2 separate regions of the Homo sapiens genome follow, and region 1 is reported to be linked to region 2. Evidence: microRNA targets listed by miRTarBase, many of them from high-throughput screens and not tested one by one. Region 2 holds a microRNA gene; the other region holds the end of a gene's coding sequence.
Evidence for each region. The annotated mature microRNA hsa-miR-655-3p reads AUAAUACAUGGUUAACCUCUUU and lies in region 2 at 5,855-5,876, opposite strand. An mRNA with a match to its seed (bases 2 to 7 or 8) in the 3' UTR can be bound and repressed. Matches are read on the target gene's strand: a 7mer-m8 pairs with bases 2 to 8, a 7mer-A1 pairs with bases 2 to 7 and ends in A, and an 8mer does both.

Region 1 (16,408 bases), not on the chromosome of region 2:
TGTTCTTGGGATATGTCTTCTCTGGAATGGTGTTTTTTTTTGTTTGTTTGTTTGTTTGTTTTTTGAGACAGAGTCTCTCACTCTGTCTCCCAGGCTGGAGTTCAGTGCTGCAATCTCGGCTCACTGCACCCTCTGCCTCCCGGGTTCAAGCAATTCTCCTGCCTTAGCCTCCCAAGTAGCTGGGATTATAGCCACGTGCCACTATGCCTGGCTAATTTTTGTATTTTTAGTAGAGATGTGGTTTCACCGTGTTGGCCAGGCTGGTCTTGAACATCTGACCTCGTGATCTGCCAACCTCGGCCTCCCAAAGGGCTAGGATTACTGGCGTGAGCCACTGCACCCGGCTATTTTCTTAATTACAGAGGTTTTCACATGTTTCCTCTTAAGAGGCTGTAATCACTTGTTATATCTGTTGCCCATCTCTCGTACTGCAGTTTCTCATCTGCTATAACAACCATTTATTATTGGTCTCAACAGAACCAACCTGTCGGTCAAAGTATACCATCATTCCATTCAGTACTCTGTGTAATAGGAGACAGAAACCAGTCTTTTTCAAGCCCCCAAAAGTATGGACACATGTGCCACTATTTTCTTTATTTTCTGAGGGAGAAGTCGGAAGTTTACTCCTAAGGGCACCTACCTTATTGGAAAAAAGGTAGGGCTGTGGTGGGTAAATGGAACCAACTTTCCTTCCATTCTATGGGGCTTGTGGCATTGTGCTCACCTGCAAACCCTTCATTGATTTTTAGAGTTCTCAGAAAGGATTTTTAAAAAATTTAAAAAAATTTGTGGGTGCATAGTGTATATATTTATGAGGTACATAAGATATTTTGATACAAGCATGCAATGCAAAATAAGCATATCAGGGAAAATGGGGTGTCCATTCCCTCAAGCATTTATTTTTTGACTTACAGACAAATTATACTCTTTATTTTAAAATGTCCAGCTGAAATTATCTTTGACTATGGTCACCCTGTTGTGCTATTCAATAGTAGGTCTTTTTCATTCTTTTTAAGTAATTTTCTTGCACCCATTAACCATCCCCACCTCCCCCACCCACTCACCCACTACCCTTTCCAGCCTCATAACCATTCTTCTACTCTCTATCTCCATGAGTTAAATGTTTGGACTTTTAGATTCCACAAATAAGTGAGAGCATGTAATGTTTGTCTTTCTGTGCCTGGCTTATTTTACTTAACGTGGTGACCTTCAGTTCCATCTATGTTGTTGCAAATGACAGGATCTCATCCTTTCTTAAGGCTGAATAGTACTCCATTGTCTATAAGTAGTACATTTTCTTTTTTTTTTTGAGACAGAGTCTCGCTCTGTCACCCAGGCTGGAGTGCAGTGGCGCGATCTCGGCTCACTGCAAGCTCCGCCTCCCGGGTTGACGCTGTTCTCCCGTCTCAGCCTCCCGAGTAGCTGCGACTGCAGGTGCCCGCCACCACGCCCGGCTACACGTTGTTAGCCAGGATGGTCTCAATCTTTTGACCTTGTGATCTGCCCACCTCGGCCTCCCAAAGTGCTGGGATTACAGTTATGAGCCACCGCGCCCGGCCTATAAGTAGTACATTATCTTTATCCATTTGCCCATTGATGGATACTTAGGTTGCTTCCAAAGTCTGGCTGTTGTGAATAGTGCTGGAACCAACATAGGGGTGCAGGTATCTTTGATATACCTATTTCCTTTCTTTGGCCTATACATATGCAGTGGGATTGCTGGATCATATGGTACCTCTATTTTTAGTGTTTTGAGAAACCTCCAAACTGTTCTTCATAGTGGTGGTACTAATTTACATCCCCACAGTGTACGGGGTTTCTTTTTCTTTCCATCCTCACCAGCATTTGTTATTGCCTGGCTTTTGGATATAAGTGATTTTAACTGGGGTGAGATGATATCTCATTGTAGTTTTGATTTGCATTTCCCTGATGATCAGTGATGTTGACAACCTTTTCATATGCCTGTTTGCTATTTGTGTCTTGTTTTGAGAAATGTTTATTCACATCTCCTGAGCTTTTTCTGGCTCGGATTATTAGATTTTTTTCCTATAGAGTTGTTTGAGCTCCTTATAACTTGTGGTTGTTAATCTCTTGTCAAATGAGTAGTTTTCAGGTATTTTCTCCCATTCTCTGGGTTGTCTCTTCACTTTGATTGCATTCTTTGCTGTGCAGAAGCTTTTTAACTTGATATGTTCCCATTTGTCCATTTTTTTTTGGTTGTCTGTGTTTGTGCGGTATTGCTCCAGAAATTTTTGCTTAGACTAATGTCTTAGAGGTTTTTCTCAATTTTGTTTTTCAAAAAACTAATTTTTTGTTTCATTGATCTTTTGAATTGTTTTAAAATTTTAATTTCATTTATTTCTGCTCTGATCTTCATTATTTTTCTTCTACTAATTTTGGGTTTTGTTTGCGCTTGCTTTTCTAGTTCTGTAAGATGCATTGTTGGATTGTTTAGTTGAAGTTTTCCCTCTTTTTTGATGTAGGCACTTGTAACTATAAACTTCCCTGTTTGTACTGCTTTTGCTGTATCCCATAGGTTTTGGTATATTTTGTTTCTGTTATCATTTGTCTCAAGAAATTTTAAATTTCCTCCTGAATTTCTTTTAATTCACTGGTCATTTGGGAGCGTATTGTTTAATTTCCATGTATTTGTATAGTTTTGAAAATTCCTCTTTTCATTCTAGTTTTATTCCATTGAGGTCACAGAAAATGCTTGGTATTATTTCCATTTTTTGGATGCTTTAAGACTTGTTTTGTGACCTAACATTTGGTCTATCCTTGAGAATGATCCATGTGCTGAGGAAAACAATGTGTATTCTGCAGCTGTTGCATGAAACGTTCTGCAACTATCTATTAGATCCATTTGGCATATAGTGCAGATAAGTGCGATGTTTCTTTATTGATTTTCTGTCTAGTAGATTTGTCCAGTGCTGCAAATGAGGTCCTGAAGTATATAGCGGTTACTGTACTGGGGCCTCTCTTTAAAGTTCTAATAATATTTGCCTTATATATCTGGGTACTCTGGTGTTGGATAAATATATATTTACAATTGTTATATTCTCTTGCTGATTTTACTCTTCTATCATTATTTAATGACCTTCTTTTTCTCTTCTTATACTTTTGGTCTTGAAATCTGTTTTGACTGACACCAGTATAGTGACTCCTGCTCTTTTTTGTTTGTTTGTTTGTTTTTCATGGAATTTCCTTTTCCATTCTTTTATTTTCAGACTATGTGCGTTTTTATAGGTAAAGTGTCTTTCTTTCTCTCTCTCTTTCTCTTTTCCTTCCTTTCCTTTCTTTCCTTCCTTTTCCTCTCTTCCTCCCTCCTTCCCCTTCTCCTTTTCCTTCCTTCCTTCCTTCCTTCATTCATTCCTTCTTCTCTCTCTTTCTCCCTTCCCTTCCCTTTCCCCTCGTTCATCTCTCTCTTCCTTTCCTTTCCTTTCCCTTTCCCCTTTCTCCCTTTCTCCCTTTCAAGATGGGGTCTCACTGTGTCACCCAGGCTGAAGTGCAGTGGTGCAATCTTGGCTCACTGCAACCTCTGCCTCCCAGGCTCCAGCAATCCTCCCACCTCAGCCTCTCAGGTAGCTGGGACCACAGCCCAGCTAATTTTGTATTTTTGGTAGAGATGGGTTTCACCATGTTGCCTAGGCTGGTCTTGAACTCCTAAGCCCAAACGATCTGCTCGCCTCGGCCTCCCAAAGAGCTGGGATTACAGGTGTGAGCCACTGCACCTGGCCTCAAGTGTGTTTCTTAAAGGCAACAGGTCAGTGGGTCTTGTGTTTTCATCCATTCAGCCAGTCTATTTCTTTTGAATGGATAATTTACTCCATTTACATTCAATGTTGTTATTGGTAAGTAAGGCTTAATCCTGCCATTTTGTTACTTGTTTACTGGTTGTTTAGTGGTCTTCTTTCTTTCCTGTCTATGTTCCTTTAGTGAAGGTGATTTTCTCTGGTGATATGATTTAGTTTCCTGATTTTCATTTTTTGTGTATCCATTGTATGTTTTTTGGTTTGATGTATTTTAACGTGATAAGAACCTAACACTCTTTGCATAAAAAAGCAAGTGAAAAGAAAACTAATAAAAACTCTACGCCTTAGCTTAGTACTCCTGATTTTTAACTTTTTGCTGTTTCTTATTGTACTATGTTTTGAAAACTTGTTGTAGTTATCATTTTTGATTTGTTCATCATTTAATTTTTGTTTGTTTGACAAAGTTTCACTCTTGTTGCCCAGGCTGGAATGCAATGCCACAATCTTGGCTCACCACAACCTCCACCTCCCGGGTTCAAGCGATTCTCCTGCCTCAGCCTCCCGAGTAGCTAGGATTACAGGCATGCGCCACCACGCCCAATTAATGTCGTTTTTTTTTTTTTTTCTGAGACGGAGTCTCGCTCTGTTGCCCAGGCTGGAGTGCAGTGGCGCGATCTTGGCTCACTACAAGCTCCGCCTCCCGGGTTCACGCTATTCTTCTGCCTCAGCCTCCTGAGTAGGTGGGACTACAGGCGCCTGCCACCACGCCCGGCTAATTTTTTTTTGTATTTTTTAGTAGAGATGGGGTTTCACTGTGTTGGCCAGGACGGTCTCGATCTCCTGACCTCGTGATCCGCCCGTCTCGGCCTCCCAAAGTGCTGGGATTACAGGCGTGAGCCACCGCGCCCGGCCTAATGTCATATTTTTAGTAGAGACGGGATTTCTCTATGTTGGTCAGGCTGAACTTGAATTCCCGACCTCAGGTGATCTGCCTAATTAATGTTCTTTTCTGATTGAAGTACTCCTTTTATCATTTCTCGTAGGACAGGTCTGGTATTGATGAAATACCTCAGCTTTTGTTTGGCCATCCTTATTTCTCTTTATGTTTGAAGGATATTTTTGCTGGATATAATATTCTAGGGTAAAGGTTTTTTTTCTTTCAGCACTTTAAGTATGTCATACCACTCTCTCCTGGCCTGTAAGTTTTCCGGTGAAAAGTCTGCAGTGAGGCGTACTGGAGCTTCATTGTACGTCATTTCTTTTTTTCCCCCTTTGGCTGCTTTTAGGATTCTCATAATGGCATTTTGCTTAGTATATTTTTGTTAGGATTATGACTATGAAGGAATAAGGGCCTGTGGTATTTCATTATGCTATCTTGCTAATATGCTTGTATAATTTTATGCCTTAGATTTGTAAAGGATGCTATCTAGTAAGTGGAATAATTTGTTGTTTTTATTTTTTCCAGTTTTGTCTTCTTATCTTACTGAAGACATTTTGCCAGAGCAGGGCCTGCAAGTTTCATTCCAAAAAGTGATGCTGAGAAGATATGAAAGATGTTGTCTTGAGAAATTACGCTTAAGGAATGACTGGGAAATTGTGGGTGAGTGGAAAGGGCAGAAGGCAAGTTATAATGGACTTGACCTATGCTCAGCAACTACTCATAGCAAAAACTTTCAATGCAATAAATGTGTGAAAGGTTTTAGTAAATTTGCAAATCTAAATAAATGTAAGATAAGCCATACTGGAGAAAAACCATTCAAATGCAAAGAATGTGGCAATGTCTCTTGCATGTCTTTAATAATGACTCAACAGCAGAGAATCCATATTGGAGAGAACCCGTACCAATGTAAAAAATGTGGCAAAGCCTTTAATGAGTGCTCATGCTTTACTGACTGTAAGAGAATTCATGTTGGAGAGAAACATTGCAAATGTGAAGAATGTAATAACATTTTTAAGTCTTGCTCAAGTCTTGCTGTTGTTGAGAAAAATCATACTGAAAAGAAAACCTACAGATGTGAAGAATGTGGCAAAGCTTTTAACCTGTGCTCAGTTCTTACTAAACATAAGAAAATTCATACTGGAGAGAAACCATACAAATGTGAAGAATGTGGCAAATCCTTTAAGTTGTTCCCATACCTTACTCAACACAAGAGAATTCATAGTAGAGAGAAACCCTACAAGTGTGAAGAATGTGGCAAAGTCTTTAAATTGTTGTCATACCTTACTCAACATAGAAGAATTCATACTGGAGAGAAAACCTTCCGATGTGAAGAATGTGGAAAAGCCTTTAACCAGAGCTCACATCTGACTGAACATAGGAGAATTCATACTGGTGAGAAACCATACAAATGTGAGGAATGTGGCAAAGCTTTTACCTGGTTCTCATACCTTATTCAGCATAAGAGAATTCATACTGGGCAGAAACCCTACAAATGTGAGGAATGTGGCAAAGCTTTTACCTGGTTTTCATACCTTACTCAACATAAGAGAATTCATACTGGAGAGAAACCCTACAAATGTGATGAATGTGGCAAAGCTTTTAACTGGTTTTCATATCTTACTAATCATAAGAGAATTCATACTGGAGAGAAACCCTACAAATGTGAAGAATGTGGCAAAGCCTTTGGCCAGAGCTCACACCTTTCTAAACATAAGACAATTCATACCAGAGAGAAACCATACAAGTGTGAGGAATGTGGCAAAGCCTTTAACCACTCTGCACAACTTGCTGTACATGAGAAAACTCATACCTGAGAAAAACCCTACAATTCTAAACAATATGGCATAGTCTTTAATACCTATTCACAACTTCACAGCAGAATATTTTTACTGAATAAGAGTGTTACAAATGTAATGACTGTCAAAAGGCCATTTACAGTCTATGAGCCTTTGAGTGCACTAAAATGTTTAGGCTACGAACAATACAAATAGACCGGTTCAACACCTCCACTTATATCACAGCTCTTACTGTACACAGAAGAATTTATACTGGAGGGAAACCCTCCAGTTGCTCAAACTGTATTCAATTTCAAAGACTTTGTATTGGAGAGAAACCCTACAAATGTAATAAATGCAGAAACAACATTTGTTCAAAAAATATACCTCAGAAAACACCAGAGTGTTCACACTAAAAACTGTTTTACAGATGCAGTAAATGTGAAAAAATGTCTAATCAAAAATTACATCAAAACACATCCAAGAATTCATAGTAAAAAGCACTAAGTCACTGACACTTTCAGACATTACTGTAAATCTGAGTGTTGGTTATAGAGAATAATTCAAAGTTAAGTTAAAGTAAGTAGGAGATTCACCTTTTGGGGAAGTTATAATTACATTTCAAGTATACCTTTTGGTGCCAGGCACGGTGGCTCTTTCCTATAGTTGCTGCACTTTTGGATGCCGAGGTCGGGGGATTGCTTGAGCCCAGGAGTTTGGGACCAGGCTGGGCAACATGGCAAAACCTCATCTCTACAAAAAGTAAAATAAAAGCCAGGCTTGGTGGCACATGCCTGTTGTCCCAGCTACTTGGAAGGCTCAGGTGGGAGGATTGCTTGAGCCTGGAGGTTGAGGATGCAGTGAGCTGCTATCTGGCAACTTCACTCCTGCCTGGGCAACAGAGCAAGACCCTTTCTCAATAATAATAATAACAACATAATAATAAAGTATACTCGGTGCACTGAAAGAGTTTTAGCTTTTTTGAAAATCACATATTTATGTAATTCAAGTCTTAAATCACTTGATACCATGCCTTCATTTCTAGTGTTTATGTGAAGGCATGAGGCCTACTGTTGCTACATGAAAGCTGTGAGAGTTTCTTCTATATTCGGGTGGGTGTTGTTCATATCCTTTTCTTTGGAAGATTATGGACATTGCATTGTAAGCTTCCTGAAGAAATTTAACTGGAGAGGCTCTTTGTACTTGTCTTATAATAGGGTTGTAAGTGATTCATGAGATAGGTCTTCAGAGTACTATTCTGCATTATATTTAAGAAAGAAACATTTGAGTTTTACAAGTCAGTTGTTTTTCCTATTGCACATTAAGGTAATAAAATTCAGTGGATTTTGAAATGCTCTTTTTAGACTGTTTGAACTTAATTTGTTTTAATAAGACATTGTTTTAATGTCTTTGGACCGTTGTACATTAAGTGATGCGTATCCTACCACCAACGTTAACCTATCTCACCTTAGTTACGGTTGTAGGTAACAAATGGTAACAATACAATAGTGGGTAACATGGTGGAATAGTATCTCTAATGATCCCTTCTCCCAGTGGCATTAAACTTCAAATAATTTGAAAAATATTGTTCCCACACGTTACACCTTCATTCTGTTTGCTCTTTTTGTAATGACAGTGTCATTATTAAGGCTATAATAAAGCCTATATAGGATTATAATCAAAGACCGTGTATTTCTGAATCTTGAAGGACTATTCACAAAATTTTATTTACATTTTCCTTTTAACATGTGGCTTTTCTGGCCTGCAAAACATATACATGCTTTTAGTTTTGGTTTACATGGAGATAAATACATAAATATACTACTCTAAGGATAAATGTTAGGTGTAAGACAGTTATGAAGCAAGTAATGTGTTTGAAGTAAGTGCATACCTGTTTTCAGAATAAGAGAAAAATGTTGGAACCAAACATAATTTCAAAAGTATGGATAATTTATTAGCAAACTAGAAACCTCAAAAATGTCGAAGGCAAATCTGTTTTCTCTGCTTTGTATTGAAGGCATTTCTCTAAAATCTTATTTTGCAGAATTTCCACATGAAATTCCTGTTTTTACTTTTATGTTGCTCATGCTAGAGCTAACGTATAATTTTCTTGTTCCAAAATTCATGAAGAATTTCTTATGTGATCTTCTCAGGGATTATAATAATGATTTTATGAAACTTATTGGTGCTTAAAAAATAATCTGAAGATGTGAATAATTCCACAGTGAGTGTATTAATTTTCATTGTACTTAATTAGTACATTTCCATTTTTCCATTATTAGAGAACACTATTCGAGCCAACTTTTTTTGTTATTGTTTCTTTCACTTAATTGAGTAATTGAGTTTATTGACTCTATTGGGCAATTTGTTCAGATAAACACTTTGGAGGCTTTATAAGTCATAGGGCTATTTGGCATATAAATGAAGTGAAGAAACATAACGCAGTGCCAGATGTGTAGTAGATGTTCCATAATTAACAATAAATATTCTTTTTGGAGTGAAGTTGTGGCTCCAGGTAAGAGATTGGAAATATCCAGGATGAAGACCTGGCATTGATTCTGCATGCAGAGAAAGGACTTCTCTACCCAGGCTGCACAACTGACTCTCTCTGAAGAGGAATTCTGCTTTTATTTCCAAATTATCTCTGTTTTTTTGTGGTCTCTTTTTCTTTCTTCTCAACTACTTATGCATTCCAGCTCTCCTCCTTTTTTTTTTTTTTTTTTTTAAAACCTGTGTTATGGCTACACTTTCTCACTGTTCTCCACACAATATGTCATCTTATATAGTACTTTGTACATTCTAACAGGAAATTTGGACTTTCTCTTTTTCTTCTTCTTTTTTTTTTTTTTTTTTGGAGACATGGTCTCACTGTGTCACCCAGGCTGGTGTGCACTGGTGTAATCTCGGATTACTGCAACCTCTGCCTCCCAGACTCAAGCAATCATCCCACCTCAGCCCCCTGAGTAGCTGGGACTAGAAGTGTGCACCCCCACTCCTAGCTAATTCTTTTTTTAGTAGAGATGAGGTTTTACCATGTTCCCAGGCTTGTCTTGAACTCCTAAGCTCTAGTGACTGACCTGCCTTGGCCTCCTAAAGTGCTGGGATTATAGGTATGAGCCACACCTGGCCTGGAAATTTGAAATTTTTTAATGTGATGATAGATTTTTGTTTGTTTGTTTGTTTGTTTTGAGACTGAGTCTCACCCTGTCACCCAGGCTGGAGTGCAGTGGTGCAATCTTGGCTCACTGCAACTTCCACCTCCTGGGTTCAATCAAGTCTCTTGCCTTGGTCTGCCAAGTAGCTGCGATTACAGGCACGCACCACCATGCCTGGCTAATTTTTGTATTTTTAGTAAAGATGGGGTTCATCATGTTGGCCAGGCTGGTCTTGAACTCCTCACCTGAGGTGATCCACCCACCTCAGCCTCTCAAAGTGCTGGGATTACAGGCATGAGCCACTGCGCCCAGCCAATAGATTGACTTTTAACTGGAGAGTTTGAGGTCATTTATATTTTACAAAACTGACATTGTGATCATAGCTTACTGCAGTCTCAACCTCCCAGGCTCAGGTTATCCTCTCATCTTAGCTCCCTGGGTAGCTAGGAGTACAGCCACATGCCACCATGCCCAGCTAATTTTTTTTATTGTTTTGTAGAAATGAAGTCTCACTGTGTTTTCCAGGCTGATCTCAAGCTCCTGCGCTCAAGCAACCCCCCTACCTCAGCCTCCCAAAGTGCTGGCATTACAGGCATGTGCCACCATGTGGCCCAGCTACAAGCAACACATTCTTTTTTTTTTTTTTTGAGACAGAGTCTCGCTCTGTCACCCAGGCTGGAGTGTAGTGGCGCGATCACGGCTCACTGCAAGCTCTGCCTCCCAGGTTCATGCCATTCTTCTGCCTCAGCCTCCCAAGTAGCTGAGACTGCAGGCGCCCGCCACCACACCCGGCTAATTTTTTTGTATTTTCAGTAGAGACAGGGTTTCACCGTGTTCCCCAGGATGGTCTCAATCTCCTGACCTCATGATCCACCTGCCTCGGCCTCCCAAAGTGCTGGGATTACAGGCGTGAGCCACCGTGCCCGGCCAGAAAATTGTTTTTAAAATAAAAGACACCATTGATAATTGCATCAAATATATGGAATACTTAAGTCTATAGCTGACATAAAATATGTAAGAGTTGTACGGAGAAAATTTTCAAACTTATTTGAGAGATGTTTAAAAGGATATAAATAGATAGAGATCTCCTGACTTCGTAATCTGCCCGCCTCGGCCTCCCAAAGTGCTGGGATTACAGGCACGAGCCACCGCGCCTGGCCAAGCAACACTCTTAATGGAGGAGAGGGATGCACTGTCCATGGGCCAGAGAATTAAATCGGGCAGTTAGCATTGTTTGTTTGTTAAAAGAAAATATTTTAAAATCCTGACACAAAGTGTGGTGAATGTATAATTAATTAGAATAGGTAAAGCTTTAATAATATTGGACTATGTATTGTAAGCAGTGTGTAAATAAACATGTCAGAATTTGGAAATCTCTGAAGAGCAAATGTATCTTAGAAATTCTTAAGGAGAGTTAATGATAAGTGGATAATTTTGAATTTAATTTTCTATGAAACACTTACAGCACACCTTATGTTTCCATGCAGAACCTATTTTTGAATGTGTGTGTTGTGTTGAACAATAATAGAATGACTTCTGTGGATTTAAAATTTGAAATAATCTTTTTTTTTTTTTTTTTTGAGACTAAGTTTCACTCTTTTTGCCCAGGCTGGAGTGCAATGGCGCGATCTCGGCTCACCGCAACCTCCGCCTCCCAGGTTCAAGTGATTTTTCTGCCTCAGCCTCCCAAGTAGCTGGGAGTACAGTCATGCACCACCACGCCTGGCTAATTTTGTATTTTTAGTAGAGTCCGGGTTTCTCCATGTTGGTCAGGCTGGTCCCAAACTCCCAACCTCACGTGATCCGCCCACCTCGTCCTCTCAAAGTGCTGAGATTACAAGCTTTAGCCACTGCCCCCGGCCTGAAATAATCTTTCATTTAGATTTATTTTTGCAATCTTGGGAACTTTTTAAATCTCTTCCTATGTTTCATTGGGTGCAGTTGGCAGTCCATAGTCTTCATTCTTAATCACCTAGCTAGCCAACCGCTTGGCCATTCACTCTAAAGACATCTCAGAGATCATGGTAGCTTTTGGATTAAAACAATTTCCTCAGTGATTTTGGGGTGCTAAATTGTTTTCTGTGTTTCTACAATAGCCAAATTGGGACCATTAGCACTGTCTGCTTCTTTACTGTTTTCTATACCATCACCATCAGGAACAGCAGCTCCAGGTACCCCCAAGCTTAAAGTAAAAGTTCTAAAATATTTCAGTCCTTCCCATGTTCTGTGCTAGGCCCTGAGCACACTGGTAAATACCTGAGTTCCTGTACTGATGACGGACTAATAGAACAAAAACATCACGAAAACTTTATTTTTGAGTCTTTTCCACTGAGTTTATGAGAAAGACAGAAACATTTATTTCCCAAATATTCCCAAATATTATATATTTCAAAATTTGGGAAATATTTCTTTCAATATTTAGGAAATAAAGATGTCTCCTCAACCTACTGATTTTATTTTTGTGGATATATATCCAATAGTAAAATTGCTGTGTCATATGGTAGTTCTATTTTGAATTTTTTTGCGGAAATCATCATACTGTTTTTGGCAGTGGCTGTATTGGTTCACATTCATACCAACAGTGTGCTAGCATTTTTCTTTCCCCACACTTTCGCCAACACTTATCCTCTGTCTTTTTGATTATAGTCGTTCTAACAAGAGTGAGGTGATACCTCATAGCAGTTCTGATTTGCCTTTCCTTGATGATTATTGATGAACATTTAAAAATATATGTGTTGGTCATTTGTAGGTCTTTTGAAAAACATATTTAGATATTTTCCCCATTTTTAATATCTTTCTGTCATATAGTTTAAGTTCTTATGTATTTTCAATATTAACCCATCCGACATATAATTTGAATATTTTTTCATTCTGTGGTTGTCTCATCATATCATTGATTGTAGCTGGTGCTGTACAGAAGCTTTTTAGTTGAAAGAAGTTTCATTCATTTTTGCTTGTGTTGCCTGGGATTTTTACATTAAATCTAAAAAATTATTGCCCAGACTAATGTCATGGTACTTTTGCCTTATGTTTTCTCATAATAGTTTCAGGTTTCAGGATAGTTGTGATGAGTATCCCATCATGTGAATGCACTTAATGCCTCTAAAATGTACACTCAAAAATGGGTAAACTCGGCCGGGTGCGGTGGCTCACTCCTGTAATCCCAGCACATTGGGAGGCTGAGGCGGGTGGATCAGTTGTGGTCAGGAGTTCAAAACCAGCCTGGCCAACATGGTGAAACCCTGTCTCTACCAAAAAATACAAAAATCAGCAGTGTGTGGTGGTGCACGCCTGTAATCTCGGCTGCTTGGGAGGATGAAGCATGAGAATCACCAGAACCTGGGAGGTGGAAATTGCAGTGTACTGAGATCGCGCCACTGCACTCCAGTCTGAGCGACAGAGTAAGAGTCTGTCTCAAAAAAAAAAAAAAAAAGTGGCAGGGGGGCAAATCTTATAGTTTGCATATTTCATTACTGCTTTAAAAAGGGAAATTAACAGCTTTAGGTATAATATAACAGCCAAATAGTACAGGTCTATAACTAGAAAGTGACTAAATGTATCATTTTATAAGAATAAAATCAGTCTTTCAAGGCTGTTTAAAAATATGTAACTGATTGACAAATTATGTATTCAAACACAGCATAAGTTTTTTTTTTTTTTTTTTTTTTTTTTAAATACAGAGTCCAGGCTGTCGTCCAGGCTGGAGTGCAGTGGCGCGATCTTGGCACACTGCAAGCTCCGCGTCCCAGGTTCACGCCATTCTCCTGCCTCAGCCTCCTGAGTAGCTGGGACTACAGGCGCCCGCCACCACGCCTGGCTAATTTTTTGTATTTTTTTTTTTTTTAGTAGAGACGGGGTTTCACCGTGTTAGCCAGGATGGTCTCAATCTCCTGACCTCGTGATCCGCCTGTCTCGGCCTCCCAAAGTGCTGGGATTACAGACGTGAGCCACTGCACCCGGCCAGCATAAGATTTTTATATGAGTAATTGGGAAGGCTTCTATAAATATAAGGTAAAACTTAACGAGTTATTTAGAATGACGTATTTTAATTTTTTTAGAAAGATTAAACAGTCAAATTATTTAGTAATGGGGATAATTCATTTTAAAGAATACTCTAAACTAACAATTATGAGCAAATTATGTGAAACAAAAAGATTGCCTAAAAATAAATTTCTCAACCATATTCATAATTTAAGAAATATGGTTAGATTTGGAATGCGAAATTCATTTAGATAATTTCACCTAGCGAATGGGTAGTAAAGATTTCAATAACATTTCTGAGGCTATCAATTAAAAGATAATTTTCAAGGCTGTGAAAGAAGAGGAGAGCTGAAGGAGGTCTCAAGGATCTGTAGTGCCCGTGGTATGATGCACGTCTTTCCTTGAAATGGCAAAATCAAAAGCCCAGTCCCCTGGGTGAGATTCTTCTAACTAGGTAAATTACCCAGGATGCTCTCCTGGCTATGACAAACGGAATCAGGAGAAACGAGGGCTGTATTCTAAGTCTGGGTGTGGTCCCGTACCCCTCAAACCTCCGTTGTCACCACCACCGTCTTCTCCACATCTTCCCCCATGTCATCCCCAAAGCAACAGGAACAGTTCCAAAAACAACCCACCAAAGGACTCTATTTTTGAGTTATCTCCCCTTGTGGATCTCAGTGTTTCCTCCAGGTGTGTTCACCCAGAGCAGCTCTCTAGGATCTGAGACAGATTCCAGCCCAGGCCATGTAAAGACTTTAGATCCTAGCCTAGGTTACACGTGTATACCCGGAATGGATATGTACCTGACTGTTGTAGACTTTGAACAGTAGTCAGGCTTCCAAGGTGAAACCACAGAAGTCCAACACACATGACCTCATTTCTCACACTTGGATAAACAAGACTAGAGTCCACTTAAAAGCATTCACGATCACTGTATCTTACTGCATCTCACGCGGGCCACTGTCTTCACTGGAGAACATCATCATACTGGGCAGCCAGAGAAGTTCTTCAAGTCATTTCCCCGACAAGCAGCTTTGGAAACACCTGAAAATTTGCAACAAAGCAGACCAGACTGCTGAGTGAGTAACATGAAGGAGAGGCCCAGCAACCCGTTATCCTACAGCCCTCCAGGTGGTTCTGGTCCATTCTACGTGCAGCAGCCTCTGCAGTACCTGAGCCGTAGTTTATCCTGAGTTAACATAGTCATACTAGGAATACGCCATACACATGTGGTAACTTTAGAGCTGGACTCAAAACTCCAAAAATGTATGAACAAAAATAGGTCTGACCGACTCCACAGCCTTTATTGGTTTCTTGCTCTTTCCCATCTTCCTTCACTGCTTCCTTCTGTTCCTGGGATCACCTTTCAAGTAAATCACTTGCTTTTATGTGTTGCATCATCATCATGCAAATTAAAGCACCACAATTTATTGAACATTTTATCAAAATGTAAAACCTTACAAAAGATTAACAGGTTATGTTTGATTATGGGATTGAATATTACATTCTCACTGTTGTGTTTGATAATTTTCATTACAAAGTCATAAGTAATCAAATGATTAGACAGCTGTTTAATTATACCTCTAAAGAATAAGCATTCCATTTGCTTACATAATTATTGTGACTCTGGGATGAATGTATTCTGAATTTGAGGGTTTTTTCATAACACCCTGTTCCAGTGCACAATGTAAATAGCCTTTTTGTCAGAACTCATGATAGTACAGGTAGCAGCAGCCACTCCCAATCATGTCTCCTGTGTTCTGCTACAGAGAAATGTTTCTGCTTACATTGGTGGCCGAGTGATAGTGTTCTGCTCCATGAGATTTAGAGAGAAGTGCCTGAACAGGTTGGCCTTCTCTGAATTAAAAAACACTGGTTTTTAATAACATTCCCTGTCCTATTAGCTTCACATTTTTCTCCTTGTTGCTGTTTGGAATGTGATTCAATTGCCTGGAGGTGGATCAGCCGACTTGGGTTCTGAAGGAGTGAGCTTGAGCACAATGACCAGGTGTAGACCATTTCAGAGACAGGAAATGGAAAGAAACTGGCACACTATAAGGTCACTGCACTATTAGTTCTGCTGCCCAAGTACGTAAGAGTACACCTCATATGTTCTGATACTATACAAAAGTCTTTTCTTTGTAGCTGAACGCAAACTAATTGCTACAGAATGAGATGTATGAAAGTTTTTAGAATCAAAATGAAATCACCAATGTCATAAAAACTCTGACAAATAGAGATGCTGGAAGAGAGTGTTATTAAGCTTATACACCTGATAACAAAGCTATCCTAAAAGACTTTTAAAAACTTTATCCTTTTGCCGGGTGTGGTGGCTCATGCCTGTAATTCCAGCACTTTTGGAGGCTGAGGCGGGTGGATCACGAAGTCAGGCTTTCGAAACCTGGCCAACATGGCAAAACCCCGCCTCTACTAAAAACAACAAAAATTAGCCAGGTATGGTGGCGGGCACCCGTAGTCTCAGCTACTCAGGAGGCTGAAGCAGGAGAATCGCTTGAACCCAGGAGGCAGAGGTTGCAGTGAGCCAAGATCACACCACTGCACTCCAGCCTGGGCGACAGACCGACTCTGTCTCAAAAACAACAACAAAAAATGTATCCTTTCATAAAGGCCTTCACAACCTTGTACAAAACATTTCTATTGAGCCATTAAAATACCAGTGGGCACTGATGAGTAGATTTATTTTGGCACATATGAAAGTTTTTGTTAGCTGGCACAACGCTCTTACATTTATATCTGGGGCTTGAGGGAACATAAAAAATGCTCATAAACTTTGCGAATGGCAGG
Region 2 (12,598 bases):
AGAGAGGAGAGCCGTGTATGACTCGCTTTGATGAATCGAATTCATCACGGCCAGCCTCTCTCCAAGTACCACACATGAACACTGGTGAGAAATCCATTGCCTCTCTGGCAGAGGTGGCCGCCCTTCTCGGGAGTCCTGTTAGGAATGGGTGGGATAGTATTGGGTAGTGGGCCGAGCCGAGTGACATACACCCACATTAAGTGCATGCTCACCCGAGGCGCACTTACCTTAAGGGAGTGCTGAGGGCACTGCCTTCTCCCCAGCAGCAAGGATGCAGTTCGTCCTTCCAGACAAGACAGGGAGCTTTTGCGTAGCTCACTGGTCCCTGACAGGAGAATCATGGCCGCTTCCCAAAGCCGCATTATCTCCATGGAGCCTCCTAGGGAGAGACAGGATGCTGGGTATTAGAGGACGACGTGACAGACCTAACAAAGGCAGCACATGCTCTGGGAAGAAGGATTCAGTCACACACCCAGGAGAAAAGCTGGCCCACATCAGGTCCCTCAACAGAAGACAACATGGCGTCCCACATCGGAAGTCAACACTTCAAGGAGGCTGTCACAGTGGTGAAGGGGCTGCCAAGGCTGACTCATTGCATTTTAAGTAAACATACACCCCCAAGAGCACGTGTCATCGCAGTCCACCAAGCAGTCACAGCAAGTCCATGGCCGCTTCCCCAGAGTTGGTGGGAGCTCTGGAAAGTCTTCCTGGAGTGGGAGTGATGCTGAGGGTTGGTGACTAGGTGGCCCACAGGGTGAACACAGTGCATGCCCCTCTGGTCAACCAGTCACACACCCTGGACGGTGCTGACACCAACATCTCTTCTGGAAGTCGGCCTGGGGCCCAGGGAGCCTCTCTTCAAAGTCTTGTGAGGTGACGCTGGTGACAGAACCACAGCTGATTCCCCAGAGTTGGTGAGACCCATGGGAAGACCTCCTATAGGTGCATGGGAGGCTCGGATTATCGGGCCAGGTGACTTACAGCTAGGTCAGCGCATTGTCCATGGCCCGCCATCCATTCTTGGCTTTTCCACATGGTTGACACAAAGACTATCTTTCCTGAAGCTGCCATTGTGTCCAGGAAGTCCTTAGAGGTAGCATTTGGTACTGAAAAAAGTGTTGTCCGTGAATGATTCGTCATAAGTAAAGCGAATCCACCACGAACAACTTCTCTTCAAGTACCACAGAAAAGCAGAGACAAGACAGACAAGGAGTCCCCTTCCACTTCTCCAAGGGGAGTGGCTGCCAACCACCATCCTGTGGACAGAGTGGACACCGAGCATTAGTGAGGCAGCTTACGGGTGTCCTAGGAACACACTGGAGTTTGGGCAACCCTTCACTCACCTCCCTTGGAGTGGTGCTGGCACAGTCCCCCTTCCCTGGAGTTGAAATTGTGGTCCTGAATCCACACGCACAAGGTTTAGAAATAAGAAGAGGGAAGCCACTTGTCACACGCCAGGAGCACTCCGCAGTGTGTAGACCCCAGGGTTTCTGAACAGGGCCTTGGACTTCTCAACAGAGCACACTGAGTTATCCATCAAGCACATCAAGGTGCCAGCCAGGCTCCCGCAGGGCCCACTGAACTAGGGAGGTCCAGAGGGGGCCCCCTTTTGCCACTGCAGGTGCCCCTAGAGAAACTGCCCAGCTCAGGCACGCCAGGCTCCTGGTAGGTTCCCCATCACTGCCCTGGGTAGATTCTCTATCAATGCCCTTGTGGTCAGAGTGATCTTTCCAACACAGACCACGCATCCCCCCTGCTCACAACCCTTCCAAATCCCCCATCTCACTCAGAATAAAACCTGGAGTCCTGCCTCTCCCAGCTCAGACCCAGCGACTCCCAGCAGCTCGGTTCAATCCCACTGGCCTTCTTGCTTTTTCTTAAAGATGCCAGGGGGCTTTCCATGGGCCTTGCCCTCCTCCTGAAATGCTCCTACCCCAGACCTTCCTCTGGTCCACCCCACTCCATTCCCACCCACATCCTCAGAGAGAGCTTTCCAGACCCCTGTATTTAACACAAAGGTCCACCTGCTTTTACCTCTTTCTGTCACTGTAACCCGCTTTCCCTTTCCCCATAAAACCTAGCAGTGGACAAAATTACGCTTCCTAATTCATGTGTTCTCATCCGTCTCTTCCACCAGAATGTAAAGTCCACATGAGCAAGAACTTGATTTCATTCACTGCTCTCTGCTAAGGTCCAGAATCACCTAGAACACAGTGTGCACTCCATCACTATTTATGGAATGACCAAGTCATTCCTTGTTATTTGATCAACTCATGAACCATGTAGTTATGCTATAAACAAAAGAATCTGATTTTTTTAAAAAGAGAGAACTTTATCGAAACAAAATCATGGTGGCCAAAGTCACCAACCCTCTCAATAGCCATTATGGCCATGGGCAGGACACAGCTCTGGCAGGAGAGTGAGCTCAGGGAGACGCCTCAGAAACAAAGCTCAGACTGCTCAACTAACTCTCCACAAACTCCAACAGATGTGGATGCCAAGTCTCCCCAGAGGGCGGTGCTGCTTCCAGAAACCCTTCCCTGGCAAGATTTGGCACTCAAAAATTCTGCCCTGGAACAAAAGCAATAATGATGACCAATTACCTATCAGTCAGTCCGGCTGATGACAGTAACACTACCGAGCCAGCATGTCTCCAGAGATTCATCTTACCAAGGGTGAGGGTCACTTGGAGCAGGTGACAGACGTCTTGTGTGAATGGGCCTCTCACTGGTCAACTTCCCCCAATAATGTAGTGCAGACACCAAAGCCCCTTCCAGAAAATCACAGCCTTAGAAGTAACCATCTTCCTCAGAGATTCGATTCTGGTCATGGCTGTGGCACATGAAGAAGCTAGTGCACTGCGATGGCCCGTTCACATACATACCTTGGGTGGGAGGTGAAGCCAAGACCCCTTGCCTGAAGGCGGGACGCTGTCCGGGAAGCCTTCCAAAGCAGTATTTGATACTGAAAAACTGGATGTCCCTGTATGATTCGTCATAAATTAAGCGAACACAGCAGGGATAACCACTCTTCAAGTACCGAAGGCTGACGGTGACGGCCCACGTCTTCACCAGAGTCTGCCTTCCTTCCAGCTAGTCCGCCTGAGGATGAATTGGGGACAGAGGGTTAGGAGAGTTGAGGGGTGCACAATGTCAATCAAGCCCTTGCTTTCCAGCCAACCATGCATTCTTGCCCCTGGAGAGGGACGAAGGGCAACAGCTCCTTCCAGAAAGCTTCCCCAGCAAGATCCATACTCAAAAAAGGCACTCCCTCATGAGACTGGGCATAAAGAAAGCAAACCCGGCAAGGAGAAGGTCCTTTCAAGTGCCAGAAAATAGCATGGCCTAGGAAACCACCACCTTGTCTTCTGAGCTGATGTGGCCTCCAGAAGTCACTGGATAGGTAGGGACTGTGGATCAACTGACATACACCATTTATAAAATGTACGTTCTCTGATCAACCATCCATTCCCCTATCATGGACAGCACCCTGCCTCCAGGTCAGGGTCCTGCCAGGGGACATCTCCGGGGAGTTTGTCCTGAAAAACAGTGGTCCAATATGATAAGCCACAAACCCAGGCGAGGCCCCACGGTCAGCCTCAACCCTGCTCTGCCCCCGAGGCCTCCAGAGCCTGGAGGCCACAGCATGTGAGTCTTACTCCAATGAAGACACAGGCTCTGCCATGGGTCATCCTTACGAGTATTTCACGAGGTGCTGACACCAATGCCTCCTTTAATAATTCCTTGGAATTATATCCAGGAAAGAGGTGATGCTGAGTTGCATTTGCAGCAGAGAAAGCATTGTAGAGGGAACCTGCCATTGACGAGACCTCCCCAGGTGTGTCAGAGGAGTCCCCCTGCCTCCTCTTGTAGGTAGCCTGGATGCTGAGGGTCAAGGACAGAGAAAGCCTGTGACCTGGCTTGATAATCTGTCCTGTGGCCTCTGGCTCTGCAGCACCTCCTGGATCGTGGCCTCGTGCTGATGGCCAGAACCTTTCCCCGGAGTTGCCCTCCCTTCTGGGGGACCCTCATGGGCAGGCTGCATGGATAATGAGAATTAATGACCCATTTAATAGGTATCATCAATTCAGCCCCCTCTCTGCCTGGGACACGGAGTGGGGCTGAGCACCGAAATGGTCTTGCCCAGAAGTCCCCCAAGGACGGGTTGCTTGGGCCATTGAACATTGGGCATCGTCAGCAGACCCTCCCCCAGGTACCTGGTGATGGTGCTGACATAGACCTCCTCTCTGGTGGCGGGACACCTCCACACATTCTCCCACTGTGCAGGAATGAGGCCAACTGTGTGGTCTTTGTCATGAAAAATGCAAGAGCACTCCGGTGGTTCCTCACCAAGCCCCACGCCGCGACACGAGCACATCGGGTCCCCCGGCCAGAGCCTGTATCACTTCTAGGGCTTCTCCTGAGGGTGGAATGAATTCTCTGGGTTAGCTGTGCAGAGAACACATTCGTCAACAAAGTTCATATCCCTGCGTCACCTCTGTGCCCATACCTCAGGCGAAGCTGACAGTTTTCTTACTGTGAAGCCGGCACCTGCAGGCACCCATAAAGAACTGACTCCACACAGGGACCCCAGCGCACTGGCCACCTCAGATAGGACAAAGCCACGGAGGCAGAGAGCAGTGGGGCTTTGCAGCCACTCCAGGATGCTGCCCCACACAGGGACCACATCCTGAAGGGGGCGGGGCTTGGTGCCACTGCCCTCCACTGTGTTAGTCCATTTTCTGGCTGCTGATAAAGACATACCCAAGACTGGGCAATTTGCAAAAGAAAGAGGTTCAATTGGACTTACAGTTCCACGTGGCTGGGTAAGCCTCACAGTCATGGTGGAAAGCAAGGAGAAGCAAGTCAGGTCTTACGTGGATGGCAGCAGGCAAACAGAGACCTTGTGCAGGGAAACTCTGCCTTATAAAACCATCAGCTCTCATGAGACCCATTCACTATCACAAGAACAGCAAGGGAAAGACCCACTCCCCTGATTCAATTACCTCCCACCAGGACCCTCCCACAACACAAAGGAATTCAAAATGAGATTTGAGTGGAGACACAGCCAAACTATATCATCCACCAAACGGGGGATCAAGGACAGCCTCCCTTCTCCATAACCAGGGGACACGCTGGAGTCCGTGTTCTCCTCTCAAACCAGGTGCTGTGTGCAGGAAGCCCTCCAAGGCAGCATCACAGAGCCGAAGATTCATTAGCTGCATGGTCTCCATCGGGAAGGAGTGAAGGGAACCTGGCACCGTGCCAGTGTCTATGAGCACCAAGCAATGGACCAGGAGACCCCACCAGGTCGGCTGGCAGAGGGAAGCTGACCTGAGGAGGAAGTGGCACTGGGCCAGTGACCTGGGTGAGGAGTGGGAACACAGCCCAAGTCGGCCTGCCCTTCACACACCCACAGAGGTGCTGGACTTCATCCAGGGAGCCACCCTGAGAGGAAAACAGGCTGTCCTCAAAGGAGTCCGCATGGAGGAGTTAACCTCTCCTCAAGTGTCCCAGTGGAGTGGTAAACCTTGTCCTTGCCCCCAGGGACCCACCCTGAAAAGCACTGGGTCCAGGAAGGGACCTAGCCCTGTGGCTAAGCCACAGACCCAGCCACTGGGGGAAGGCACAAGTTGGCATTCAAAGAGGAGGGAACCTCACATAACTCGCAAAAACACATCGCATTCACAGCAAACACAGCAAAGCAACCCAGGGCTCTTCCCTCCACCAGCCTCACTTCCAGGAAGCTTCCCTCACGCAGCACGGAGCCGGGGCAGGGGCTCTCAGCTCACACAAGGCACACACTCTCACGTCTCCTGTGGGGGCGGCCCTCCGAGGCAGAGTCTGATATTCAAAAAGAGGTTAACCATGTATTATTCATGATGAATGAAGCGAACATAACACGGATAACCTCTCCTCAAATATCCTTGCATAGTTCTGAAACGAAAACCATGGCCTCTTCCCCACCGTTGTCTTTGCTTCCAGAAGATTCTTCTTGGGATGAGCTGAATCCCAGGGTTGGGGCAGGGAGGTGTTCACATCCTGCAAAGAAAGCACACGTACTGGCATTGACCTTCCATTCCCGTACCTCAGTCTCAGGGCCCAGGCAGCCCTGGCACCAAAGTCAAAACCCTGACATTGGAACCATGCTCAGAAAGACTTCTAAGGCAGGTTCCATTAAAAATATATGAAAGCTTCCTCCACGGATTCCTGAAAGACGGGATTTGATGACGAGAACCAGCAGAATGCATGTCAGAGATAAGCAAAGCCATCATGAAGAATTCTGTTTCCGATAAAATGGGGTGTCACTGATCCCTGAAGACAGGGTCCCTACCGCAGAGATGGTCTCAGTTCCTGGAATTTCCTCCCGATGACTGCTTGGAAACGGAGGGTCACAGAATTCCAGGGCCCAGCACATCAATAATGAATAAGCGTGCCGTTGACCTGCACCCGACAATCTTGCAGCAGCTTGACACCGGCGGCCCCTCCCTGAAGCAGGTCTTGTATCTGGGAAGCCCTTTGAGGCATGATTTGATTTTAAAGAAAAGTAATCTCATGCTATTTACGCATGTGAAAGTGAACCCTTGTTCACAAACCAAAACATGGCACGTTGATTCTGGGCCGTTCTCCCACGATGGACGGTATATGGCATGTGGGGAGACAGGCGACACATATCACAGGGAAAGCACCTGGTCTCCAGCCCCAAACCACTGTGAGTGTTGTCCACAGACCGGCGGTATTAGCATCACTTGAGAACTTGCTAAAAATGCAGAATCTTGGTCCCTGAATCAGAATCTGCTTTTTAACAAGATCCCTAGGTGATGAAAATCTTAGGAGCATTTTTAAAGTTTGAGAAACACTACTCTAGCCAACTATTCATATGCACACGCACACAAACACACACACACACACACACACACCCCAGAGGTGCTGTCGACCACAACGTCTTATTCCATGAGAGTCTGTCTAAGATGGGGTGGTTCCCAAGGAAGGCACGAAGCCATGCCACGTCCACCAAGAATAATCCAAATACCCAACAGGCAGCTGCTTAGGAGCTGCCAAAAAGTAGTAATAGTAACAGGAAATGTACGGAGTTTTTACTAATGTTTGCATTCCCTACAGGAAGTGTTTCATACTCAGAATGAAGGCTACAGATAGGAGAGGCTGGACCCAGGTTCCCCGGTCCACCATCTACCTAGAGAGAGGCTTGACCCCGGCATCTCTCCAAGGAATTCCTCGTGGCTAAGATTTAATAACAAGAAGAGAAAGAGAGATGAAATAATTGTGAACATCTTCCAATAAAAAGATATGGCACCAAGCCCCTAAATGGCATCTCCACCCCAAAGCTAGCATTTGTCCAAGGAAATCACACTGGTGGCTTGCATTCTGAGATCACTGGATTCATCATTATAAATCATCAACACAGTCACACTCCATGGTGGGGCAGGCACCAATGTCCCCTCACTGAAGTCAGCACTGTGCTTTCAAAAACTTCTGAAGCAAATTTGGATACTAAAACAATGGTTGTCCGATATTAATCATCATAAATATAGAGACCATACTACGGACAGCCATTCTTTAAGCACCAAAGAACTGTGCCATCAAGAAGAGCTGGGCATCTTCTCCAAAGTTGGTGTCTCTTCCAGAAAGTTCTTCTCAGGTAGTCCAAACAATGAGGATTAGCAGGTCAGCTTCACACATTGAGAGTCAAGCCCATGCCTGGGGGTCAGTCACACTCTTGGGCAGGGGAAGGGGGTCTGGCCCCAATGATCGGTCCCTAAGGTTTGCTTCATGTCCAAGAAGTGCCTCCAAGAAGCAGGATTTGATAAGTAGCTTGAATGCTGCGTCACCCACAACACACACCCATGGCCAATGCAAATCCCTGATAGCACCAAGGAGTCCCGTGGCCCCCTGCCAAGCGTGGCCCCGCCTCCAGGGTTCTGAGGTTAGGGCACAAGTGTCCCCACCACAAACCAACTGCATGCGCCCTCATCCCCACCCAGGCGTGAGCCCCTGGGAAGGGCTGATGCGTGCATCCCTTTACAGAACTTGTCATGGCGTCCAGGAAGTCTGCCGAGGCAAGATTTGATACTCAAAAAGAAATTGTCCTTGTATGATTCATCATAAATAAAGCGAACACACCAAGGATAATTTCTCCTCAAGTATGAAACAGCAGCACGGACCACCACCTCCAGGTCTTTGGCTCAAGGTTAGATGGTGACTGCTTCGTGGCAAACCCAGTCACACACTCGCTCATGCACACACACCACGCACACACAGGCATGCACAATGCATGCACCAAGTTTGACCTCTCTTTAAGCACCAGGGAAGCAAGATGCCATAGAATCCTCACTCAGCTTGGCATCCTCGCTCAAGACTCCTTCAAAGCGTAGATAGTGGCCGAGGTCAAGAACCCAGGGACTGTCTCTCTTAAGTGGAGCAAATGTTCTCGGCACCCCTGCTGACCCCCACTGCATGTGGCATTCTGTATCAAAAGCCACTGTGTGAATGGCTTAGCTGCCAAGCATCAAGAGCATCACTAGCCCCCATTGTAAACACCGTGTATGCTCTGGGCTTCCTAGTCCATTCCATACCCGATGAAGGACTTGACTTCCATGTTTTGACACTGTTCCAAAAACCCATGGAGAGATTTTAGTCATAAAACCACCACCACCACCACCACCACCACCACCAATGATAGTTTCACAGCACACAAGGGTCCTGGCTACCACCTACGAAGTGCCGACCACGGGGCTCTGCTCTGAGCCGTGTACAAGTCTTAACTCGTTCAGCCCCAGCAGCCCCAAGAAATGGACGCCAATGTGATTCCCCTTTGACATGTGAGACAATGGGCACAGCACGATGAGATCCTTGCCCAAGGTTGGACGGTTAGTAAATGTCAGAGGTGGGATCCAAACACAGGAAATCGAGCTCCAGAGTCTGCGCTCTTGATACTGAAAAAGTGGATGACCCTGTACGATTCGACATGAGCAAAACGAACAGGACAGGGATAACCACTCTCCAAGTACCAAAGGTTAGCACGGAAAAGAAAGCCACTGCCTTGGGTGGACTTGGTACGTCTTCAAGGCGCGGTCCTGGGGATGAATTAGATGCTGAGGGTTAGTGGACCGGGTCACATACCCCAAGCAGAACATGCACACTCACGGACCGAGTAACAGCAGGGACCACAAAGCCACTACCCCACACGAGCGCCACCCCAGCCATCGGCCCGGGCTGATGACTTCCCGCTCAGGAAGCAGGGACCCAGACCACACACATCGTGCATGCTTTTGGCCCCGCCCACACTGCACCAGGAGAGGGGATGTCCCAGAGGCCACTGCCTTCCCTAAAGTCATCCAGGTGCCCGTGAAGTCCTCTCTGTGAAGTGGGGACCCGTGAACGATTTGCCACACACAAAACGGATACACACGGTCATGCACACACATACCGCATCCCTTGCTGAGTGTGGACTGGGTCCAAGACAAGGTTTGATACTCACAGAGAGCTTGCCCTTGTATATTCCATGTCAATAAACCGAATATACAAAGGGCAACCTCGCTTTAAGTACCAAACAATAGCACTGGGCAGGTTCCTCACTATCATTCACGGGGCCGGCCTCCTCTCCCGGGGTTCATCCTGGCGGGGGAGGGGGTGGGAGATGCGGGATCAGCAGACCAGGTGGCAAACACCACCTGCCAGCTGTGTGCCCATAGGTCAGCTCTCCATCCCAAAGGGGCCAGGAAGGGGCAGACGCCAGTGCCCCTTCACCAGAATCAGCCTCTTTTCCAGGCATCACTCCAGATTAGAACTTGTTCCTGAAAAGGAGATCCACCCCACGGGCCTTCCTGGGCACACGCAGAGCTCAGCTTCTCACTTTCTATAGGAATTCCCTGGGGTGGGACCACCATCTCCTTCCCAGTGTGGGCACCTCTCCAGGAAGTTTTCCTAAGGATGCACTCAGCACCGAGGTCCCAGGCACTGGATGAATTTACACCTTAGACAAAGCAAAGGCCCTGTGGTCACCATCCCTTCATCCATCTCACAGAGCCGTTGACACCAGTGTCATTCTCCATGCCAGCCCTTGCCCCACCCCTGCCAGAGGCTGGCATCGTGGCCATGAAGCCATGCTAAGAAAGAGCACAGGGTCAACAGTAGTAAACCCCACGTACCCCCAAGTAACTGAGGAAGCAGACCCACAGCCCATTCCCCACAGTGGTCTCTCCTTCAAGAAGGGGAGAGGAGCGGGAGCCGCCTGGTCCAGGTGGCAGGTTATGTGACTCATTACCCAGGCGTGGTGCTCACCTCTCTTCAGCTGGACGTTCGCTTTCCTTGGGCTGAGGATGCTGCGAATGTCCTTCCTGAAGCTGGCTTCGGGTCCAGATGACCCCCATGGCAGTCGGGGTGTAAAAAGCCGGCAGTCACACGGCCCAAGGAGTGTCTCCACAAACACAGAACAAGAGTCCCATTCTCAGGCAGCCATCCTAGGTGTGAGCAGAAAGCCAGCAGTCAGAGACGGGGCACAGACATCGAGGCAGAAGCAGGCGCCCTCTGACCTCCCACATGCACGCACCTGGTGCGGGGCTGACAGCTCCCACGGCTCATCCCCAGCGCTGCCTTCATGGGCAATCACAAATGACAAATAGAAGCAAACCATTCTTACAGATTCAGCCTGGGGACTGCGAGCTGGATCATGAACACCCAAGCATCAAAAAAAAAAAGCGCTGATGAGCACACCTCAGCCCCTTCCCCAAGGTCAATACCACCTCCAGGAAGCCCTCCTGGGGCTGGCCTACCAGGCTCGAAAACAGCATAGACAGAGCCAGTGCTCCGTGGTCCACCATCACTGCTGTCTGTGTTCCCCTTGAAATGATCCAACATCCAGGTCCCCCTTCTAAGGCTGATGCTGGGAACAGGAAGCCTTCTGTGTATGACTTGGTACCAAGAAGAGGCAGATCAATGTGTGATTTATCCTTAAAAAAGCAAACCACCATTAAACTTGGAGCACACAAAAAGGTCCCTCCTCTCCCACTGCTTCCAGGGAGTCCACAGGAAGAACCAGCATAGAGGGCGAAGGCAGAACCCAGGGGCAGCGTCACAGCCAACCTCACGTTCCCGGACATGGAAGCCAGGCCATACCTGAGAGGGGCTGACATCCGAGGCTTTGTCCTGGAGACAAGCAGGGTATGAGTGTCTTCTCCGACAGTTTGATACGCAAATGAGAGTCTCCCCCTGTATATTCGCCATTAATCAAGTGAACATACAAAGGGTATCCTCTCTTTAAGTACCAAAGGGTGGCTCAAAGAGCAGGTGAGGACCATGCCGGGTCTTTGCCGGAGTGGACATCTCCTCCTGCGAGGCCTGAGACCAAGGGGGAGGGGCCCGGTGACAAGCCTCATCTGGCTGACCCTGGAGCTGGGCCTGCACCTTGCACATTGTGGCCTGGCCCCGAAAGGTGGCACATCCAGGACTCCCTGCAGGCGAGACTGGCTTCTAAACAAGGGAACAGGTAGGCATGACTATCAGTGTGCTCAGCATGCATGGGTGAACCTGCTTCAAATACCCACAAGCTACATGGACAATGGAACCATCACCTTTCTCCAAAGGGGCACAGGGTGTGAGGGCTCAGCCCGGCAAGACATGGAGTTATCAGAGAAGAAGGCATCTGCAGGCATTCTCAGAGCTGGAGAGCGCTGAGACAATGTCTCTCCTCTGAGGCTGGTTGTCCTAGAGATGACCAGATCCAAGAATGTGTCACCTGTACCTACCTCGAAACAAACAAAAAGAGGGCCCCAGCGTCAGACTCTAGCGACAAAGGAGTCCTGAAGACCAGACACACCTGCCCAAGGCACACTCAGGTGCAATCACTGGACAATGTGCTCCGAGGACTGGCCATTGGAGTCCAGCGACAGTCCCAGAGGGCACAGGCAGGCTCAGGGAGCTCCACCAGTAACTTGCCTTAGAACAACCTGACATCCATGTGCTTCCCTCAAGGCTGACACTCTCTCAAGGATGGAGACCACCAGGGAGTGGCAGGTCAGGGGAGTAGCAGGTGAGAAGCAGCATCAGCTCTGCGCTCCACCATCCACCACCCATTCGTGTGTCCGGAGAGGTGCGAGGTTAGTGCTGGACGCAGGAAGCCCTCTGGGTATGACTTGGTATGGAGAAGAGGCAGATCCATGTGATTTATCCTTAAAAAAAGCAAACCACCATTAAACTCAGTGCACACAAAAAGGACCCTCCTCTCCCACTGCCTCCAGGGAGTCCACAGGAAGAACCAGCACAGAGAGCGAAGGCAGAACCCAAGGGCTAGGATCACAGCCAAGCTCACGTTCCCAGACAGGGAAGCCAAGCCGTACCTGAGAGGGGCTGACATCCGAGGCTTTGTCCTGGAGACAGCAGGGTCTGAGCGTCTTCCTCGACAGAGTTTGATACGCAAATAAGAGTCTCCCCCTGTATATTCGCCATTAATCAAGTGAACATACAAAGGGTATCCTCTCTTCAAGTACCAAAGAGTGGCTCAAAGAGCAGGTGAGGACTATGCCGGGTCTTCGCCGGAGTGGACATCTCCTCCTGCGAGGCCTGAGACCAAGGGGGAGGGG

Region 1: the mRNA of ZNF695 is a reported target of hsa-miR-655-3p. The part of its 3' UTR that is shown has no 7-base or 8-base seed match.

Annotation. Positions count from the first base shown.
Region 1 is chr1:246,977,065-246,993,472 of GRCh38, reverse strand. ZNF695 (zinc finger protein 695) reads left to right here. Exons shown (of 4, transcript NM_020394.5): 4 at 5,218-8,150. The coding sequence ends at 6,506. ZNF670-ZNF695 (ZNF670-ZNF695 readthrough (NMD candidate)) reads left to right here. Exons shown (of 7, transcript NR_037894.2): 4 at 5,218-5,352; 5 at 13,469-13,633. Among named protein-coding and RNA genes, the nearest start is that of ZNF695, 23 kb to the left of the region's middle. RefSeq lists an enhancer at 14,332-14,626.
Region 2 is chr14:101,042,888-101,055,485 of GRCh38, reverse strand. It overlaps MIR655 (microRNA 655), which reads right to left and starts at 5,936; the gene lies at 5,840-5,936. MIR381HG (MIR381 host gene) reads right to left here and starts at 10,329. Exons shown (of 3, transcript NR_104192.1): 1 at 10,302-10,329; 2 at 4,217-4,419; 3 at 3,691-3,884. MIR889 (microRNA 889) reads right to left here and starts at 7,585; the gene lies at 7,507-7,585. MIR544A (microRNA 544a) reads right to left here and starts at 6,828; the gene lies at 6,738-6,828. It also overlaps MIR487A, MIR382, MIR1185-1, MIR1185-2, MIR381 and MIR487B, and 4 more genes. RefSeq lists enhancers at 8,720-9,220, 9,221-9,721.